Regions from separate parts of the Homo sapiens genome. Here region 1 is linked to region 2. Evidence: fine-mapped expression QTL. A gene starts in region 2. The other region holds a variant in brackets. All regions are shown on one strand. Distances are between the middles of the regions. Region 1 has its middle 39 kb from the start of MVK. Region 2 holds the start of MMAB (metabolism of cobalamin associated B).

Region 1 (11,622 bases), 38 kb after region 2:
TATCAGTGTCAGCACGGACTTCTTTCTGCTCTGATGACTAGATTCTAAAGAGGCAGTGACATTATTTGAGATAACAGAGGGAGCAGAAAAAGGGTCAGCAATGGAGAGAAAACGGCAGAGCCAGCAGATAAAGGGGAGGCCGGAGGGGGCGGAGCACCCTCGCTGGGGGTGCACCCCCCCATTCTTGTGATTCCTGCTCCCTAAGCCTGGCTCCCTGTGGTGGGGGCTGGAATGCCGCCCGGCCCAGGGCAGCGGAGAGGCCCAGACAGCTGCGCCGAGCCGCCCGCTCTGCTCCCCGGCAGCCCTCCTTGGCTGCCCGGCCGCCCATTCCGCCTTTTCAATTCGATTCAATTAGGCCGCCCCGCTCGGAAGCTTGTCTCCTCTGATATCCAGTTTAACTGACAGGGGATTAGTGCTGTTTGTATTACACACACACTCTCTCTCCGGCTGCCAAACTGCTGGCAGGGCCCTGGGACCCGGGTTATTTATGGAGCTGGCTGGCCATACCTTCCCTCTCGGACCTGCTTCCTTTGGAAGCAGGGGGCTGGGGGCCCTGCTCTGTGCTCCCCCTCCATCCCAACCCCACCACTTCCTGATCCAGGGGCCTGAGGGCCTGGGCAATGGAGCAGAAGAGCCCAGATAGAACTGGGTTCGAATCTCAGCTCTGCCACTTGCTGGCTGTGTGACCTTGGGTGAGCAACATTGCCTCTCAGCCTCAGTTTCTTTATGTGAAAAATGGAGACGAGGAACCGGCTCATCAGGTGGTTGTGGGGATAAAGCGAGGAGGCAGGGGCAGGGCACTGAACACAGGGCCTGCGTATTCACTGTGCATGTTCACTCAGCGCATGGGACGGGGTGACGATTCTGCACTGGGTGCTGTGCTGAGTCACAGAGGAGGTAGTGGTGGGCCATGCTGATCCAGCCTGCCTTCCAGAAGCCCACACTCAGGTGCAGGAGAGAAAAATGAACATGGAGTCCCTCCCGGTGCTCACACAGGGAGCCCTGGCTAGATGGGAGCATTGATGACAGTGATGATGATGGAGATGGAAACAAGTGCCACCCCAGGCCCTTTGCCTCTGCTGTTCCCTCTGCCTGGAACATCCCCCCGACCCCCCCACCCCCGCCACACACACACACACCTCCTCCGCACCCTCACACTTCACCTGGCTGGCATGTGGCCTCAGTTTACCACTCACCTCCTCCAAAAGCCTTCCCTGACCCACCCTCCTCCTAATGCAGTTCTCCCCTCTTGCCCTCCATCTCTCCCTTTGCTTTATGTCCAAATGTGCCATCTGTTGTTGACTTGTTGCATCGCCTGTCTCCTCAGGAAACTGCGCCTTCCTGAGGGCACACATAGGAGCCCACTCACCGGTCCCCCTGAGTCTAGCACAGTGCCTGGCTCATGCTAAGAGCTTGAGTCTTTCTGGATGAATGGATGCATAAAGGAATGAATGAATGAACAGAGAAGTAGACAGACAAAGGCCCCCTTGCCTGCAACATGGCCATCCTGCTCAGCTCAGTACATCTGGCTTCCCTAGGCCACCTGCCCAGCCCTCCAAAGGGGTTTGCTGGGTCTTGGAATAGGTGGAGGTCAGGTGCTGGTCCAAAGCAGGTGTGGATGCTTCTCTTCTTATCCTTGCTTTACTCAAAGGGAAGGAAGGGCCTTTATAGACCTTTCCTCTCAGCATTCAGGGGACTAGTGAGTACTTTGAGGTGATGGGCTGGAAGGCCCCAGGCCTAGGAAATGTCCTTATTTTGGGGAAGGGCCTCATGCTGCCAGGTCCCGTCTGCATCTTCTCCCTCACTCCGTTTCACAGATCTTGGGTGTGGGGGCACTGGCCCTGACATGCAGGTCTGAACATTTCTACAATTCAATGCAATGAAATAGTAGCCATTACTTACTGCACACACTGGTGCCAGGCTTAACACCCATGACCTCATTTCATTCTCACAAGAGCTCTCCATTCCCCAGAAGAGAAACCTGACAGTCAGAGTTGTGGTGGGGTGTGCCTGACATCACCCAGCCAGGAAGGGGTGAAGCTGGGATCAACCCCAGGACTCTGAGGTTCAATATCTGCTCATTCATCTAACATCTGCCATGTGCCAGACACTTTGGTGTGCGCTGTCTCCCGATGTCCTGAGAAGTAGGTATTCTATGCCCCACTTTGCAGAAGGGAAATTTGAGACTCAGAAAGGTGAAGTGGCTGAACCTCAGTCTCACAGCCTGCTAGGGGCAGAGCTGGCTGGAAACAAGGGTCTGCTTGAGCTCTCATCCAGTTTATAACCTCTACCCTGTGGTTTCTTCCTCAACTCAAGGCCCTGGCCCTGGGGTGTTTCAGATCGATATAGGGCGTGGGTGGGCAGGGAGGGCACACATCTATCAAGCAGCAGGTGCTGAGTTTCTCAAGAGCCCCTGAAATATGACACAGTCCCTGCTGGTAAGGGAGATGTCATCCAGTTACAAGAATATCAAATAAATATGTAAAGAGTTACAAGAATTCAATGACATATAGGAATGTTGAGTACTCTCCCAGGGTGCATGCGTGACTCACAAGTCTGAGCAGTTGGGCAGGGAAGGCAACCTTGAAAGATACATGGATTTGGAAACAGAAGCCCACAAAATAATCATTACAATTACAATGAACTGATCATTATGATGATGATAATAATCATTAATAATGACTACAATTCAGCCCCATATTTGTAGGTCTTGCTGTTCCCATTTCACAGACAAAGATAATGAAGCTCAGAGACAGGAAGCAGCATGCCTAAGGCCAGCCAGCAGGTAGATGGGGCTCAAGCGCAGAGCCTTTGATCCCAAAGTCAGTTCCTCTTCTCCAGCCCTGGACTCGCAGAGTGTCACACTCACAGAGTGTCACAAGTAGCAGGTGGTCTGGCCTGGGTCTTGATGGTTGAGCCAGCATTTGTTTCAAGGGCCAGCTTCTTGGCCAAGGGCCAAGTGTGGCTGGGGCGGAGGTATCCGGTGGAGGTACTGCCTGAGCTCAGATGAACCCTTCCCTGCCCTCCAGGGCTTACAGGGCAGAGCAAGCTAAGCAAACTGATGATGACAGTGAAGAGCAGTGGATTCTGAGTTACCATGGGAACAGGGAAGAAGAGGGGTGCCTCTTCTTCCTAGCCTGGCATGGGATCAAGGAAGGCTTCCTGGAGGAAGAGGTACCTTGGTGGAATTTTGGCTGGGCTAGAAGGTAAGAGAGGGCATTTGAGGCAGCAAAGGCACTGAAGTGAGCAATACCGTGGTGTGCGCAGAGAATCCAAACGCTGTTCTGTGTTCAGTTGGAACCTACAGTAAGTATGAGGCCAACATAAAGCAAGTTTTATCCTGAGGGCTCTGGGGAGCCAGGGTGGGTGTTAGGCAGGGATGGTGGGGTCATAATGATGCTTTATAAAGTTCTCTGGCTGCGGCATGATAAATGGAGGGGCAGGGGGAAAGGAGTCAGGTGAGAGGTACAATGGCTGGAGAGGGGCAGTGGCATTAGGGACAGATGGAGAGGAGGTGACAGATAGGAAGATTTTGTAGGTGCCTGGAGCAGCCTTTCAGTTTTGGAGTCCACCTTGTCACTCTGTTCAAGGAGCGGGTATACCCTGCTCCCTTCTTTTGAGACTGGTTCTCACTCTGTCACCCAGGCTGCTGTGTGGTGGCACAATCACAGCTCACTGCAGCCTTGAACTCATGAGCTCAAGCCATCCTACCACCTCAACCTCTCAAGTAGCTGGAACTACAGTCATGTACTAGTATGCCTGGCTAATTTTTTACTTTTTTTTTTTTTTTTTTGTAGAGATGGGGTTCTTGCTATGTTGCCCAGGGTGGTCTCGAACTTCTGGGCTCAAGCAATCCCCCACCCCTCGGCCTCCCAAAGTGCTGGGATAACAGGCATGAGCCACTGTGCCCGGCCATATACCCCTCTTTTGATAGTCTCCAGCTGGAGGTGGGGCCTCTTTTGCCGATGCCCTAGTTGGCATGGAAGCCCTTTATAACGGTGTTCTAATTAGGGCTCCCATAACAAAGTACCATAAATGTGGTGGCTTAAAACAACAGAGATTTACTCTGTCATGGTTCAGGAGGCCAGAAGTCTAGAATGAAGGTGTCGACAGGACCAGGGACCCTCTGAGACACTGGGTCCTCTGAGAACCCTCCCTTGCCTCTTCCTAGCTTCTGGTGGTGGCTGGCAGTCCTGGGCTTGCGGTTGCATCACTCCAGCCTTGGCTGTTGCTGACACATGGCCTTCTCCCTGTGTGTCTGGCTTCACATGGCATTCCCTCTTATAAGGACAGCAGCCCACCCTCATGACCTCATCTTAACTTGATTACATCTGCAAAGACCTCATTTTCAAATAAAGTCACATTCATGGGGATCCGGGGTTAGGACTTCAAAATCTCTTTGTGGGGGACACGATTCCACTCCCAATAACCCCTAAGGGGCTGGGCATGGTGGCTCATGTGGGTAATCCTAGCACTTTGGGAGGCTGAGGTGGGAGGATTGCTTGAGCTCATGAGTTTGAGACCAGCCTAGGCAATAGGGTGAAACCCCATCTATACAAAAAATACAAAAATTAGCCAGGCACTGTGGTAAGCGCTTATAGTTCCAGCTACTTGGGAGGCCAAGATGGGAGGATGGCAGGATGGCTTGAGCTCAAGAGTTCGAGACCAGCCTGAGCAACATGTCGAAACCCCATCTCTACAATAAAATACAAAAATTAGCTGGGTGTCGTGATGAATGCTTGTAGTCCCAGCTATTCGAGAGGCTGAGGTGGGAGGATGGCTTGAGCCCAGGAGGTAGAGGTTACAGCGAGCCGAGATTGCACCACTGCACTCCAGCCTGAATGACAGAGCCAGACCTTGTCTTAAAAAAACAAAACAAACCCTAAGGGCAGGGGTTTTGCTGGTTGTTTCTGCCTCTGTGGTCTCCAGCCAGAGCCTGGCATATGTCTGTGCCAGAGGGGAGTTGTGGATAGAGTCAGAGTGTCCAGTCTCTCCCCGTGGGTGACCGCAGCCCCTGCTGCCAACAGCAGCAGCCACAGCCCGCTTGGCATCTGGGCAAGGCAGGTCTCCCGGGAAGCCCCCTCCCACGGGCTGTTCTCCGAAAGAAGTGGTGTTGATGTCGGCAGGTGCCTGTCACTTCCCTTCCCCAGCAAAGTCTCAAACTGTCAGAATAAGTGAAATAGTCATTGCCTATCTCTGCGTTTGAGATTTTATTGGCAGTTTCATTGTCACCCAAAACAACCTCCTTTTCTCCGTTGGCGTTTTCATCAGATGGGTCTGTGGGCAGGAGGAGGAGGCAGGGCTGGCTCCTAAAAACAGGCCTGGGCAGGTCATGGTGCTGGCTCCACTGGGCTGGAGTCAGCAGGGGCAAAAGACCCCGTGGTGGGCTCTGCCATGCCTTGGCTCCTGCAGAAAGCTGCTGGGCACTCTCTCCAGGGAGCAAAAAGGAAGTGAGAGACGGAAGGTAAAAACACCCTGAGAGCCCCTGGAGATGGTCACAATGGCCAGATGGGGCAGCCCAGACTGCACAGTGGGTCCTCAGGCCCTTCCCCAGTCCTCCCTGGTGGGAATTAGGGGGGCATTATGGTGGTGGGGTAGGAGCATGGGCTGTGGCATCAGACCCACCTGGCGGCAGGCACCTCAGAGCAAGCACTTCTCCCTGCAGAGCCTCAATGTGCCTGTCTGTCAAATGGGGTGGTAACAGG[A/T]ACCTTCCATCAGCTGAGGGCTTGATCTGGGCCACACACCCAATTATCCTGTTCAGTCCTCCCCAGAACCGAGAGAGGTGGGTGTGCTCAAGCTCTTCATTTTCTTGATATGGAAACTGAGGCAGCCCGACCAAGGTTACCACAGCAGGCAAATTGCAGGGGTTGGGTTTGAATCCAGGCTGTGAGACTCCAAGCCTGGTTGTGAATCCACTTTGGAGGGTTAGTGGAAGGAGTGTAGGTGATATTATTTTTTTTTTTTTTTGAGACAGGGTCTCACTCTGTTGCCCAGGCCGGAGTTCAGTGGTGCGATCACGGCTCACTGCAGCCTCTACCTCCCAGGCTCAATTGATTCTCCTACCTCAGCCTCCCAAGCAGCTGGGACTACAGGTGTACACCACCACACTCAGCTAAGTTTTAATTTTTCCTAGAGGCGGGATCTCTCTGTTGCTCAGGCTGGCCTCGGACTTCTGGGCTCAAGTGGTCCTCCCACCTTGGCCTCCTGAAGTGCCAGGATTACAGGTGTGAGCCATTGTGCCCGCTGGTAATAAAGTGTCAACAGAGTACTAGGCACATGGGACAAAAAGCCATCTGTTATTGTTGTCTGGGCATGGGGTAGAATCTGGGCCCCTTGGCAGTCACTCTCTGTCCTGGGACTTTCTGGACATCACTGGGTAGTTTCACCCACAGGGTGGCCTAAGGAACCTCCAAGGGAATGGGGTGAGCTCAGGAGTTCCACTGAGACTGGGGGTCCCTGTGTGGGGCTCAATCCTGCTTCATGCTGTGATCCTGCTGGTGTACTCTGTCCCTGGCCCCCAGCAGGGCTGGGTGCCACTCTACCACATCCAAGCATCACAGAAGGGAATCTGAGGCCCAGAGAGCTGTCCCTTGCTCAGGGCTCCTGAGCCAGGGAGGTGGATACAGTGGTTAGAACCACAGATTGTGGAGTCAGTGAACTCCATGTTTGAGTTCTGGTGTGGCCACCTGCTGGTTGGTTAACAAGTTGCTGAGTCTCAGAGTCTCAGTTGCATCCTCTGCACATTGGGATAATAAAGGATTCCTCTGGAGACTGGGTGCTGTGGCTCTCACCTGTAACCCAGCTACTCAGCAGGGAGGTTGGCTTGAGCGGGGGAGTTCGAACCTGTAGCCCCGGTGCTACTCAGCAGGGAGGCTTGCTTGAGCCCGGGTGTTTGAGGCTGCAGTGAGCTATGATCACACCACTGCACTCCAGCCTGGGTTACAGAGTGAGACAGTCTCTAAAAAAAATCACATCCCCCTGCTAAGGCCGAGGGGACAAATGATGCTACACAGAAGACATTAGCACACAGAGAAAAGAAGACAGAGTTTTGGCATCTACAGGCTCCTTGAAGATCTCAGACTCCAGCCCATTCTTGGTGCAGAGGAGGAAACTGAGGCCCAGAGATTAGGGAGGGTTTCCACTTAGCCACCCCGCAGAACAGGGGCTTGTTCCTTGGCCCTGTAACTCCCGATCCAGAATGTCAGCCACCTCCCCAGCTGGCGTCGTCCCGGGAGTCCCCTCCGCCCCTCACCTGCCCTTCTCCCCGTGTCTCTGCCTTCGAGAGCCCAAGCTGCGGGCCCGCAGTGAGGAATGCCATTCTCCCTCTCCCCGGCACACTGAAGGTTTTGAAAGTTAAAGTATTACCGTCGGCTTTGTTGTTGCCTAACTACGACAGACAAATTGAGAACCAGTTGTCAAAATGTCAGTGCACAACAAATCAACATGCAGAACGAGTCTCAGCGCTCTGCGGTGTATAATTAAACAAAAAATCCCTTTTAGAAATTTCAGCGAGCGTTGGTTCCACTTTATATTTGTCTGTGTGATTAATAAAGGCAGCTAATTTTCAGACTTTAAAAACAGCTAGAAAATAGCTCCTAATTACATATTAGGTTCCTCGCGGCCCCCGCTGCGCTCCGCCGGCATTGGTGGGCCGAAGAATTTGGCAGAGTCTTAATTGCATTCTGAGCATCATCTAATTTTAGTTAAATGTAATGTAATCAGCAGCAGATGTCTGAAATAAAATATGAATTATGAATATGATGAAATTTCATTCTTGAATAAAAAAGTAATTTGCTATTTAGTTCATTAAAGTCATAGAGGTTTATTAGGAGCAGGTATATATGGCCCGATGAGGGTATATATTAAGTGATACTGGGAGACAGAAACCCCAAAGGGATGGGAAACTTCATCCAGGAGAGTTCAGTTATGATTAATGACTGTGGGGGCTGGAGAGGCTCCTGGGGACCCTGAGTTTACCCAGCCGGAGAATTCCCTCGGGCTCTTTGAGGAAGGCCCTGAGTTTTGGGACAAGGGGACTTAGAGAGGAAAGCCCTGGGTGCTGCCCCTGAGCCCTGTCCCACCCCTGACACCCACCCCCACCTCCTTACCGCTTCCAAGATGGGCACAGTGGAGAGCTGGCTCCTTGGACATTGCTCTATGCAGGACACTCACCTGGGCCTGGTGACACAGCATGAGGTGGTGATCAGCTTCTTACACACTGAGCAGAGATTGGGGCTCTGCCTCTCGCTGTGTGACCTCAGGCCAGAACCTCAGTTTCCCTTTCTATACAAGGGGACTAATCATAGTACCTATCAGACACTCTGAACAGTACCTGGAATGTGGCAAAGCCCTCGTTTAGCGTTAGCTGCTGGAGTTGCTGTTATTAGCTGTAGAGGTCATATTTTAAATTAGTATTAAAATGCCTTCTTTTGTTTTCAGTCTGTGTGTGTGTGTGTGTGTGTGTGTGTGTGTGTGTGTGTATGTGTGAGACGGAATCTCACTCTGTTGCCCAGGCTGGAGTGCAGTGGCACGATCTTGACTCACTGCAACCTCTGCTCCCCGGGTTCCAGTTATTCTCCTGCCTCAGCCTCCTGAGTAGCTGGGATTACAGGTGTGAGCCACCACATCTGGCTAATTTTTGTATTTTTAGTAGAAATGGGTTTCACCATGTTGGCCAGGCTGGTTTGGGACTCCTGACCTCAGGTGATCCACCTGTCTCAGCCTCCCAAAGTGCTGGGATTACAGGCATGAGCCACCGCACCCAGCATGTTTTCATCTTTTTTGTTTGCTGTTTAGAGATAGGGTCTCACTCTGTCACCCAAGATGGAGTGCAGTGGTACCATCATAGCTCACTGCAGCCTCCCAACTTTGGGCTCAAGCAATCCTCCTGCCTCAGCCTCCCAAGTAACTGGAACTACAGGGCACACACTACCACACCTGGCTAATTTTGTATTTTTTATTGTTTTGTAGAGACAGGGTCTCACTATGTTGCCCAGGCTGGTCTTGAACTCCTGGCTTCAAGTGATCCTCCTGACTTGGCCTCCCAAAGTGCTGGGATTATAGGAGTAAGCCATGGCACCTGGTCTGTTTTGTCTCGTAAGCAGCCTGTGATGCAGATCATAAGTTCTAGTCTGTTTTTTTTAGCTGAGGCTGAGGGAGGTTAAATGATGTGTCTGCAGTCACACAGTGAATAATTGCCAAAGTTGAGATTTGAACCAGAACCGTCCTGCTCCCGGTGTTCCCTGCTACATCCAGAGCAGTGCCAGGACAGCTGGCGGGAGTCCTGGCTGAGGATTCTGGAGGGGGTGGCTCATCAGCCCCAGAAGGAGACAGAGAAGAGTGAGGGACAGGCGGGTAGGATCTGCCAGAAGATGCTCTGGTCAGGTCGGGGACAGAGGCTGCCTCTCCAACCTCCCACTTCACACCAACCAATGATTTCCTGCAATTATCTGGAAAAGATTAATTAGTAAAGTGCACCATATTGACTGAAGGCCGCCCCGGCGATCGATAACTTGGGAAAGTCTCCCAGGTGCCCAGAGAAAAAAACCGAACTGGAAAGTGGGGGAGGAGGCTCATTTTGCAACCCTGGGGTTGTCCACTCGGCTCTCTGGGTCGGGGCCAGCTCTGCGTGACTCCCTCTTGGCTTCAAGCAAGACCTTTTTGCCTCTCTGAACCTGTTTCCCCACATGTAAAGTGGGGGGCTGGACTGACCCCTATCCAGGGATCTTCCTTCTACTGGAGGAAGTTCTGGGAGGAGAGCAGGCACTCTGGGGGTACCGGGGGCTGATCGGGTGGCTGCTGTGGAGGGAGCCCCCTTCTCTAGGGCTTGACTTTCCGCTGCTGATGTGGAAGACAGCTGGAGACCAAGGACGCCTCAGGGATCCATGGTGGCTGCCATCTGAGGGTGAAAGAGAATGTCTGGTCTAAGGAAGACCAACGTCTGCTGGCTACGGTTTCTGGCAGGGCAAAGAGTCAAGTGTGTGCATCATATGGGTTAAGATGATAAGCCAGGGAGACAGGGGAATAATAACCCCAAGTCCTCACTTCCCCAAGCATTGCCTTAAGGGTCTCCTTGCCTCTTTGAACCTCAGTATCCTTCTCTGTAAATAGTGCGGTCCTGTTGAGCTGCTGGGAGTCTCCGAAGGGTTGGTGTGAGCCCATGGCCCAGCCCGGTGCCTGCGCAGAGCAGGTGCAGGGTCAACAGAAGCTGCTGTCACAGTGAGCTGCTATAGTCTCCCCCAAGCCCCAGTCAGTATCCCAGCAGGACATGGCATTCCACTGGGATGGTACCAGCGAAGAGAGTTTAGTAAAGGGAGTTCTGTAAACAGAGTTGCAAACCAAACAGGGATGGTGAGACCATCAGGGTCGGGAAACAGCAAGGTCCCCCCTTCTCATTTCCAAGGTCTGATGGGGCAGAAACGGAGTTGCCAGATCCCACAAGGAGCTGGAGCCATGGAGAGGGGTGCCACGAGGTGAGCAGGAGCCTTCGTCACAAAGGGACAGATTATTGCCAGGAATGCAGCACTTAAGCCAGCTGAGTTGGGCAGAGACACCCCAAACTCTCCCTCTGCCCGCTCCCAGCCTCCCATTGGATGATTCCACCTGAAACTTAGAGGACAAGTTGCCCCTGGATGCTGTCTATGGAGGTCAGCTTCCCAGGGTAAAGAGCCAGGCAGGGAACAGGAGAACAGACCAATGGTAAAAGGGAAAAGCCTACCACAGCCCTTCTTCCCAGAAATTTGGAGAAGCGTTTTATGGGAGGAGTCTTCTGGGTGGCAGTGGGCAAGAGGGGGTCTTCACCAGGCAGAGACTTCACCCCATGTTGCAGACCCTGAGTCCCATGAGGCCTCACCTTGCCCATGAGAAGAATCTCACTTCACGCCCAGCACTCCTGAAACAGAGCTCCTTGGGAGTTGCAAGGATGTCAGACACGCCTGGGTTTGCCAATTTCCAACTTATTTGCTTATGCCCTGGATGTAGCGGCTTCACCTCTCTGAGATGAAATGACACCGCATCAGCAGCGTCCCCAGCACGGTGCTTGATGTGTAGTGGGGGCTCACAAAGCACTCCCTCCCTCCCTTTTCCACCTTCTTTCTAATAAGCCACCCGTACCACCAGCCATTTGTCTAATAGTGATTGGGCTCCTGCCACGTGCCAGGCCTGCACCGGGCCCCGGCCCAAGCTGCTGCAGAACTGAGAATCATTTGTCCTGCAACAAACACTGTCTGAGCATCTCCTCCGAGCCAGACTCTGGGGACACAGCGGCCACAAGACAGCTCTGGCCCCTGCTCCTGTGAGGTCCACGGTGTCTCAGGGAAGCAGACTGGAAGCTGGAGTTTGGGTGTTTGGGGTTTTAATGGGGTGTTGGGAGGGCCTGGATGCCAGTCAGCAGCATCCATCAAGGAAAGAACCCCTCCAGTATTCTCAGCCTGACATCTGGGAAGGAGTCCTAGATGGGGTTCTCAGTGTGCAAGACCCCAGCACACAAGTCCAAGCAGCCCTCAAATCCTGGGCCTGGAGGGGTCTGGGAGGGCTGGACCACTCAGGTACTTTCCCTCCACTCACCCCCAGGACCACCGCCCACCACCTCACCTCCCACCAGGACCTGAGGGCGCTGGCCTG
Region 2 (10,221 bases):
AACTTTCAACTTGAAATATAGCATATACACAGAAAAGTGCTCAAATCGTAAGTGTGCAAGTTGGTGAATTACTACTAACTGAATATACCTCCTTGATCAGCACCTAGCTTCATAAACAGAACATGAGCAACACCCTGAAAGCCCCCATGTAACCCCTTTTAGTTGCCACTCCCCAAGGGTTAGCCACTATGCTCACTTCTTTCCTGATGTGCTTTTCAACTTAAAAACCACATACTAACCATCCTGATAAAGAAATACAACACGTTCTATATTTTATATCATATATACATTACCATTATATTTCACATGAAGTCAAAGTCCTCTGTGCCTCTGCCTAGCTCACAGTCCCGCCTTTCTCCCCCAACCTCTGAGAAAGTGAAAACTGCCCCTGACAGTTTGGAGCTGGCTTTCGCTATCGGGCAGGCTTTGGGGTTGCCAGGTGCCGGCCTGGCACTCACAGGTAGACTGTGGTGTTCTGCTGAACACAAACCATTTCACAGAAAACCATCAGACAGGCCACTCTATGACTATGACGGTTCGAGACCAAGACAAGGCCACTGCGGAAGAACGTCTGAGCACAGACGACTGTGTCCAAACTCCAAAAGATGACCAAACCTCCCCCTTCCCTGGCTAATGTGAGTGACTGCTGCATCTTTATCCATTACAGCGTTAGCACCTCTTTGTCCCTTCTGTCTTCTAGAAACAAATTATTAACATACCCAATTACAGGCCAGGTGCAGTGGCTCACACTGTAATCCCAGGACTTTGGGAGGCCATGGTGGGCAGATCACTTGAGGCCAGGAGTTCGAGACTAGCCTGGCCAACATGGCAAATCCCCGTCTCTACTAAAAACAGAAAAAATTAGTTGGGCATGGTGATGCATGCCTGTAGTCCCAGCTATTCGCGAGGCTGAGGCATAAGAATTGCTTGAACCCAGGAGGTTGCAGTGAGCTGAGATCGTGCCACTGCACTCCAGCCTGGGCAACAGAACTAGACCCTGTCTCAAAAAACAAAAAAAGATACCCAGTGACAGAAACAGCCCTGCTTCCTAACAGGATTCAATCCAGAACAAAGCCCCACTTCCTTGTAACCACCCAACACAAGCCCAACCCTACAATAAGTCCTTTCCAACATCCTCTTCCTTCTTTTTAATTGTGGTAACAGATGATACATAACAGAAATTTTACCATTTTGACCCTTCTTAAGTTTACCATTCAGTGGCACTGAGTATGTCCCGTACATGCTTTTATACTTTTACTATACAAGTATATATCCAAAAAACAATACATACTAGTGGTCTGCATGCTTTTGTACTACAAAAAATGGTATACTGTCTTGGTGCGGTAGCTCATGCCTCCTGTAATCCCAGCATTTTGGGAGGCTGAGCTGGGAGGATACCTTGAGCCTAGCAGTTCAAGACCAGCCTGGGCAACACAGCAAGACCTCATCTCTACAAAAAAAATTAAAAAGTATTAGCCAGGCATGGCGATGTGTGCCTGTTGTCCCAGATACTCAGAAGGCTGAGGTGGGAGGATTGCTTGAGTCTGAAAGGTGGAGGCTGTTGTGAGCCATGACTGAGCCACTGCACTCCAGCCTGGGTGACAGAGTAAAACCCTGTATCAAAAAAAAAAAAAAAAAAGGATCATAGCAACGCATTCTTCTGCATCTTACTTTTTTCTATATAACATGTTCTAGCATTTTAAAAACTATTAAAGTAATATATACTCATTATAAAAAATAATAAAATAGAATAAAAGTATGTAAATAGTGAAAGTCCTTCTGTTTGTTCCCCTCTCACAACTTAATCTCTCTCCCAGAACAGTCCCAGGTGTAACCTTTCAGACTATTCTACACACACCTGAACACACATATATGTACATGCTTATCCAGACAGATTCAGGCTTTTGTCATTTAATATCTCTTGGGTGTTTTTCATTTCACATTACATTTTTGTAACATATTTTGAGATCTGTCAAATATCATACTTTTTTTTTCTGAGACTTTTTTTTTTTCTGAGATGGAGTCTTGCTCTGTCACCCAGGCTGGAGTGCAGTGGCATGATCTTGGCTCACTGCAACCTCTGCCTCCCGAGTTCAAGCAATTCTCCTGCCTCAGCCTCCCAAGTAGCTGCTGGGGTTACAGGCATGGACCACCATACTCAGCTAATTTTTGTATTTTTAGTAGAGATGGGGTTTCACCACATTGGCCAGGCTAGTCTCAAATTCCTGGCCTCAGATGATTAGCCCAACAGGGCCTCCCAAAGTGCCGGGATTACAGGCATGAGCCACCGCGCCTGGTATATTATACTTTAAAGTGGCTGCAAAGAATTTGGAAGAACTTTAAAATGGTGTATGCCATGAGTATTTCTTTGCATTTTTCACCTGTCCCCACCCTACCTTTGTCTCCCGTTTTGGTGTAAATCTTGGGGATCCTGGGTGTCTTCGAGGAAGGCTGTGGCCTAATGAGAAATAAACATCAGTATCTGGTGAGTGGGGATGGCTTACACAGAGGGTCAGCTCCTTCAGAGGGTCCCAGCTTGCTGCTTGTAACCTCAGAGGCAGCACTTACCCCTTACTGCTTAGATGGTCATCTCTTGTTGATTTCTTTCCCCTAGATCCTTTCTAATAGCAAACATTTTGTGGGCAAGACCAGAGCTGGATGACAGAGTGTGTAGAGTAGCTGATGTAATGCCTTGCTCAACAAAGATGCTCAATAAATATTTGCTGAAGGACTTGATTGATCCTTTGCCATTGTCCCTGCACTGTGCCAAGTAGTTTACAGGCATTATCTTCTGGAATTATCCTGGAATCTTTCCACAACCCCAAAGGTAGCCAACACCTATTCTCTTCATTTTACTGAGGAGGAAACTATGGCTCAGATGAGACACCTTCCTAGACCATCCAAGAAGAGGCAGGAGTGGGATGCCCAAAACTGTCCTAGACCAGAGCACAAACTGTAACTTCTATCCTACCGAAATTATTTATTTATTTATTATTATTATTATTATTTTGAGATGGGGTCTCACTCTGTCACCCAGGCTGAAATGCAGTTGCACGATCTAGGCTCACTGCAACCTCTGCCTCCCAGGCTCAAACAATCCTCCCACCTCAGCCTCCCGAGCAGCTGGGAGCACGGGTGTATACCACCACACCCAGCTAATTTTTTTTTTTTTTTTTTTTTGGTAGAGACGGGTTTCACCATGTTGCTCAGGCTGGTTTTGAACTCCTGAGCTCAAGCAATACTCCTGCCTCAAACTCCCAAAGTGTTGTGATTACAGGCGTGAGCCACCGTATCTGGCCTATGATTATTTTGTTCACAGACAGGGTCTTGCTCTGTTGCCTAAGCTGGAATGCAGTGCAGTGGCATGATCATAGCTCACTGCAGCCTTGAACTCCTGAGCTCAAGTGATCCTCTGCCTCAGCCTCCCAAGTAGCTAGGACTCTTAACTCTATCCTACCCAAATTTTTATCTTATACTCCACCAACTCAGGGCCTCTTGCAGGAAAAGAAACCTGAGCCACTTCCATAGTATGAGGCTTCGAGTGTACTCAGAGATGAAGAATTGCCAAAATACAGCTCAAAAAGTGGCATTTTCAAAAAACAATGTAAACAACTCAAGGACATAGCTCAAAATTAAAATGTGACATTACAAGCCCATTCGAAGGTTAATTTCCTGGATCTGTGAACTAAATTAATCCATTATTAATCCACGGTACTCTAGAGGTTCTGAGGTCTGGGTTGAGGTGCAAGTTTCAAGGAATATGAGGAAAGCCATCTTTAGAAGGTGCTGGTGTATCTGGGACCTGGGGAATAAACTGCTTTGGAGATTGGTCACAATCTGAGTCGAGAGCCCTCCTGGCCCACATGGGATATGCCCTGCCCTGCCCGATGATAGCGGGACTTCATTGGGACTTAGGCAAAGACTACCTGGTCTCTGGCGCCCACGTGGCCCACGTTGCCATGGTGACGTCAGAACAGCGTGGAGACGTCACCTGACGGTTGCCGCGGTGACCTCACGGCGGTGTGACGTACCCATGGCGACGACACCACGATTCACGGCAGGTGTTCGAGTTGCCCTTCCCGCCAGCCACTCACCTGTCCCCGTCTTCCACGCCCTGAGGGCCGCGGCTCTGGAAACGGGGATACAGGAGCCTGGCGGCGCCGAAGCACCCGCGCAGGCCAAGACGGCTCCCCAGGCCAAGACGGCTCCCCAGGCCGCACACAGCCATGAGCCAGGCTGCTTGACGGGACCTGACCCCGCCAGGTTCCCGTCCAGTCCGCGGGGTGACTCCACCCACAGCTGGCCGCGCCACCGCTCAGGTTTCAATTTTTATTGGTTCGCAGTTCTCACCCCAGGGCGGGACACTCCCAGGGACTTGTTTCCCATTGGTTTAACGGAAGGAGCGGGGCGGGAAAACCCGTGTCGGCTTGGCTGCAACACCTATTGACCAATGTTCAAGCCTATTGGTAAAGGTACTCCGGGCTCGCGCGCTCTGATTGGCTGGCCTGAAGTACAACGCCTCCTCCCCTTGAGGCACGGGCGCTCTGGGTTGTGGGAGTTGGGGAGCTGCTCCGGCTTCGGCGCGGAGGGGCGGCGGCCGGGGAGGCGGCGGCGGCGGCAGGTGAGAGGCCGGGGTCGGGCGGCCGGGCGGCGCGAGGTCCTAGACCCAGGACGACGCTGAGCCAGGCGTCCAGCTTCTGTGGCTCAGTTTACCCAGCTCTGAGAGTCTTGCCCCGAGGGATCGGCGACCTCAATCTGACAGTCGTGATTTTGAGCTTGACAAGCAAGGGGATTCCCCGCTCTGAGCCTCAGTTTTTCTAAGAAATGGGGATCACGATAGTACTTAGCTCATAGTACACCTGAATCTTAGCGTAAGGTAATCTACGTAAAGCCTTAAGCGGAGGATAATTTTGCGTTATGTATAAAAGTGTAAATTGCACACACCTATAGACCCTGCAAGCTCCTTTCTAGGACTCTGTCCTGCAGAAATACTCATTTAAGTGTGCAAAACGAGGCGTACTGGGTGTTTTCTGCAGCCTTGTTTATAATTGTGACACATTGGAAACAGCCTAAATGTCCAGCAAAGAGTTCTTTCTGCTCCATGATTTCATGTAATTTCTACCTTTAATAGTAGTAGTTGTAAAAGCTGAAACGAAGAACAGAGCCAGTAATAAGTAGCTCTCAGTAATTGAATGATTAGTAGGTGCCAGACACCGCCAAGTGTTTCCCTTGCGTTAATTTAACCTTCCTAACATCCACCGAGGTAGGTACGGTTATTTTCTCTCCATATAACGTGTGGGGAAACCGAGGTTCTTAGCCATTTAAGTGAGTTAACTAAGATGACATCACTGGGGAGTGGAAGAGCTGGCATTTGAACCCAGATCTGTTGGATGTGTCCAGTTGACTCCTGCATTGCCTTTCTGGTACGTAGCAAGTGCTGGACGGTAACTACCTTTTTTGTTATTATGATGGGCTTGAACTAGGTGTTCTAAGATCTCTTCCTGCTGGTTCTGACATCTAGAGATCTTTGCTCTTCTCATTGGCTTTCCCTTTTAGGATTCCCAGGAGCCATGTTGTCAGAAGTCCTACTGGTGTCTGCTCCGGGGAAAGTCATCCTTCATGGAGAACATGCCGTGGTACATGGCAAGGTACAAAGCCGTTAGAGCCTTTAAGGATTGGGTACCCCTTCTCCCTGATGCTAATTTTGTAAGAAGGTAAAAGGACACCCTGAGGCACAGCTTGGGAGCAGATCAGAGAGATCAGGTTCTCCCCAGCCAGGCAAGGAAAAGATTTCTTATGCCCACTGAAGGGATTCTTGGGCCTCGCTCGGTATGATAGCAAAAAGATGATTATAATATAAAGCCCTGTGAGTGGAATGAGATCACCTAGGAGTGAGCTTTGATGCAGAAGGAAAGAGGTTTGAGAACTGAGCTCCGGGGCACTAAGACATTTAGAAGTTGGAAGGATGATCTAGCAAAGGAGTTGAAAACATCCATTATCTCATTTTACCCTTACAGCTACCCCCAAGGCATACCCTTTTATTATCCTATTTTACAAATGTGCAAACTGAGGCTTAGGAGAGAAGTGGTAACTTGATCCAAGTCCTATATACCTTGGTAGAGCTTGGTGTGAACCTAAGTCTGTCTGAAACCACCTCTGCTGCACTCTGCTTTTTTTTTTTTTTCCTGAGACAGTCTTGCTCTGTCACCGGAGTGCAATCTTGCGATCATGGCTCACTGCAGCCTCCAACCTCAGCCTCCCAAGTAGCTGGGACCACAGGTGTGTACCACCATGCCCCACTAATTTTTTTCTTTTATTTTTCTGTAGAGACGTGGTCTGACACTACGCTGGTCTCAAACTCCTGGGCTCAAGTGATCCTCTTGCCTTGGCCTCCCAAAGTGCTGGGATTACAGATATGAGCCACCACACCTGGCTTCTCACTGCTATTCTTTATGTTCTTATATTTCTCATTGAAAACATGGTGATTATGGGGAAGTGATTCCTTGGTATTGAGAACCTCTGAAATTTTGCAGGCAGAAGGCAAAGTGGATTTTAACTTTTAGCTGATCGATGGTGGCTGTTCCCAGGCTTAGTGGGAGAGCATGCCAAGGTTGATTAGCAGTGTCTGGCAAGGGCATGGCTAGGAGTGGCCTCTGTGCTTATGTTTGCTCTCTTCTTAGCACGTGGGTCCTGGCCCCTTTGCCACTCACCCTCAGGCTTATTGCTTTTGTCATTTATTCTATAGGTAGCACTGGCTGTATCCTTGAACTTGAGAACATTCCTCCGGCTTCAACCCCACAGCAATGGGAAAGTGGACCTCAGCTTACCCAACATTGGTATCAAGCGGGCCTGGGATGTGGCCAGGCTTCAGTCACTGGACACAAGCTTTCTGGGTGAGTGCAAGGAGGAGAAACCAGGTGTGCTAAGAGCCTACAGAGAGGGCAGCTGGCCAGGTATTCTGGGCTGTCCCCAAGGGAGCCAGGGGCCAGCTATTTCCCGGGTGTTTTCTACCCTGACCTCATAAAATTAGCTTCACTCATTTTATTTTTTTAAAATTTATAGGTGTAAAACAATGCATTGGATCTCTGTGGGCTGTTGTGGACAGATCATCAAGGCCTATTGTTGAGTGAAAAAAATGCAAAACAGCAAACATACGTATTTAAGTATAAATATGTGTATAAATGATAGAAAAGGTCTCGGGGGCATAGACATCAGATTGGCAGTGGTGATTAGTTCTCCTGGGAGAGACCTAGGGCCAGAGAGTAGACAAAGTGACACATGTTTTAAATAAGGAGAATATATTGGCATTTTGTATAATTAAAAATTGATAAAAGTAGGCCAGGCACAGTGGCTCATGCCTGTAATTCCAGCACTTTGGGAGGCCAAGGCGGGCGGATCATCTGAGGTCAGGAGTTCGAGACCAGCCTGGCCAACATGTCGAAACCATGTCTCTACTAAAAATACAAAAATTAGCTGGGTGTGGTGGCACACACCTGTAATCTCAGCTACTCAGGAGGCTGAGGTAGGAGAATCGCTTGAACCTGGGAGGCAGAGGTTGCAGTGAGCCAAGATTGCGCCATTGCACTCCAGCCTGGGGGACAGGGCAAGACTCCATCTCAAAAAAAAAAAAAAAAATTTAATAAAAGTACAAGTTACCTATGCTTATTATTGGAAAATATAGTCAATACTGGGACATTGTAATTTTAAAAATCACCTATTATTTCCCTTCTCCTTTCCCTGACCCCAGTAATGACTCTAAGCATTTAGGCATTAATCCTTCTGGGTGATTTTCTGTAGATTGATAGAAAGATTGATAGAGACAGGGAGATATCTTGGTTTTTTAACCAAAATTGGGTCAGGCCATATAAACCATTCAGAAGTACTGATTTTTTCTTTGTGTGTCACGTGTGTGTGCTGATTTTTGACAGCACTGTGAAGATTTCATCCACTCATAAGCAGGCCAGCTTTTTCCATCAGTGGAGTCCCCTGTACCTGCCCCAGAGCTGACGTGTGTTTTCTCTGTTGTCAGTTTACTGTCTGCTCCCTGGGCTGAATGAAGCCTTGCTCTTTGGAACAGTGTTTCTCAGCCAGGATGGGGTAAATGAGAATCTTTTTGGGTTTTTTCCTTACACTGCACCTGAACCCTTGACACCTGCTTCCCATTCCCCATGAGAAACCACAGTCACTCCCATATGCCGTATGGGGATGGAGGAAGAGTTGAAAATTCTCATTTCACTTGTTGAGATGGGGTCTCACTGTGTTGCCCAGGCTGGTCTGGAACTCCTGGGCTCAAGCAGTTTTCCACTTTCCCACCTTGGGCTCCCAAAGTGCTGGGGTTACAGGTGAGAGCCACTGTGCCCAGCCAAAATCCTCATTTTAGAGCAGCCCTTTTTAACTTCATCATATCTTGGAATCACCCAGGAGTTTTTTGTGATGGTGGTGGTGGTTTTTTTTAACCAATACAGATGGATGGGCTCCTGGCTCCGCCCCTCTCTTATTGGGAGTTGGTAGTGGTGGTAGGAGTTTTTGAAAGGGGTTCCTTGGGTGATTCTGGGGACACCTCAGTTAAAAGCCACTCCTTTGGAGCGTGCATCTGAAAACAACCAGCCAGAGCACATGGAACTTGCTTTCCAAGGTGCACAGGGCCACCCAGCCAGACCAGAAATGTCTCCTGAGAACCAGCTGCAACTTGTGTATGTCAGTAGCTTGGGGTGGAAGCAGCCAGGTATGGGGGAACATGTCTCAGACCACTCCAACTCCCTCAGTGAACCTGGGGCAGGTCACTTCATCCTCTGGGCCTCGGAGCAGAGACATGTTTCCTGACTGAGGGCTGCCATGAGGATCCGACGACACTGGAGGCAGGCATTAGGGGTGCGACACAGAGTGCATTATGTAGGGAAGGGCTTGTTAGTTTTGGAGCTCTGGGAGACATACTATCTTCTAGGTTGCAAAGATCTACCATCTTTCTTTCAGTGTCCTTTTGCTCCCTCCTGATAGTAATAAACATTGAACTTTTTTTTTTTTTTTAAGAGGCAGGGTCTTACTATGTTGCCCAGGCTGGTCCCAAATTCCTGGGCTCAAGTGTTCTTCTGCCTTAGCCTCCCGAGTAGCTGGGAATATAAGCACATACCACTGCACCGTGCTACTACAGTGAACACTTATTGGGCACTTACGTGTGCCAGGCACTAAGTGTGTTCACATATGTTAGCACTCTTAGAATTCGCCAGCATTCCCTGGAAGTAGGTGGTGGTATTCATCCCCATTGTACAGATCTGAAAATTAAAGTTCAGAGGTCAAGTGGCTCAGGTTACACTTGTTGGTGACACTGAAAGGATTCAGACCCAGGTTTCTCCTAGCCCCAAAGTCCAGGCTCTTAACAGCTGTTCCATCTCGATTACAAAGCTCTGAAATACCTGGGTTCTCAATGATGCCATGACTTGGCCATTTGAGTATATCATTAATCCATTCAACACACATTTACCCAGTACTTAACCAGTGCCCGAAGTTTCCTAACACACGCATGCCCAATTCCATTTCCCAGTCCCTTGAGAATGTGACCTGAGGCTCAGCGAGTGATTTGTAAAGGTGAGCTGGCCAGAAAGGCTCTGCCTTCTCAGTGTCTCAGAGGAAAGTGGCCCAGGTTCCTGTACATCCCTGGGAACAACCTGCCTCACCTTCCCCTTCTGCCCAGGCACCGCCTCGCATTTACACTGTCCTATTCCTGATGATTATCTTTTGGAGGAGGGAAATATTTTGGGGGTTAACTTAACACTCTTTTGATTTTGGTTTTATACAATGGAAGGTGAAACCTAGGCCCTTGTGCGATTGAGCCAGCATTCTCTGTGTGTGTCTGTGTGTCTGTGTGTGTTTGTTTTAAGACTACAATTTTTTTTTTTTTTTTTTTTGAGACAGGGTCTCACTCTGTTATGCAGCCTGGAGTACAGTGGTGCGACCACAGCTCACTGTTTCTTCAACCTCCTGGGCTCAAGCGATCCTCCTGCCTCAGCCTTCTGAGTAGCTGGGACCACAGGTGTGCGCCACCATGCCTGGCTAGTTTTTGTACTTTCTGTAGAGTTGGGGTTTCGCCATGTTACCTAGGCTGGTCTCAAACTCCTAGGCACAAGTGATCTGCCCACCTTGGCCTCCCAAAGTACTGGGGTTACAGGCATAAGCGCCTGCACCCAACCTTAAAACTACTGTTAATTAGCACTTACTACATGC

What was found.
Region 1: its variant is fine-mapped to the expression of MMAB in lymphoblastoid cells (GTEx, PIP 0.98).

The regions. Positions count from the first base shown.
Region 1 is chr12:109,606,491-109,618,112 of GRCh38, forward strand. No RefSeq gene overlaps it. Among named protein-coding and RNA genes, the nearest start is that of MVK, 39 kb to the left of the region's middle. RefSeq lists an enhancer at 4,735-5,235. The variant A/T (reference allele first, on the strand shown) is at 5,706.
Region 2 is chr12:109,569,253-109,579,473 of GRCh38, forward strand. MMAB (metabolism of cobalamin associated B) reads right to left here and starts at 4,252. Exons shown (of 9, transcript NM_052845.4): 1 at 4,095-4,252; 2 at 2,397-2,458. The coding sequence starts at 4,228. It overlaps MVK (mevalonate kinase), which reads left to right and starts at 4,542. Exons shown (of 11, transcript NM_000431.4): 1 at 4,542-4,621; 2 at 5,557-5,648; 3 at 6,746-6,893. The coding sequence starts at 5,571. RefSeq lists enhancers at 3,642-4,143, 4,144-4,643 and silencers at 4,403-4,532, 4,553-4,782.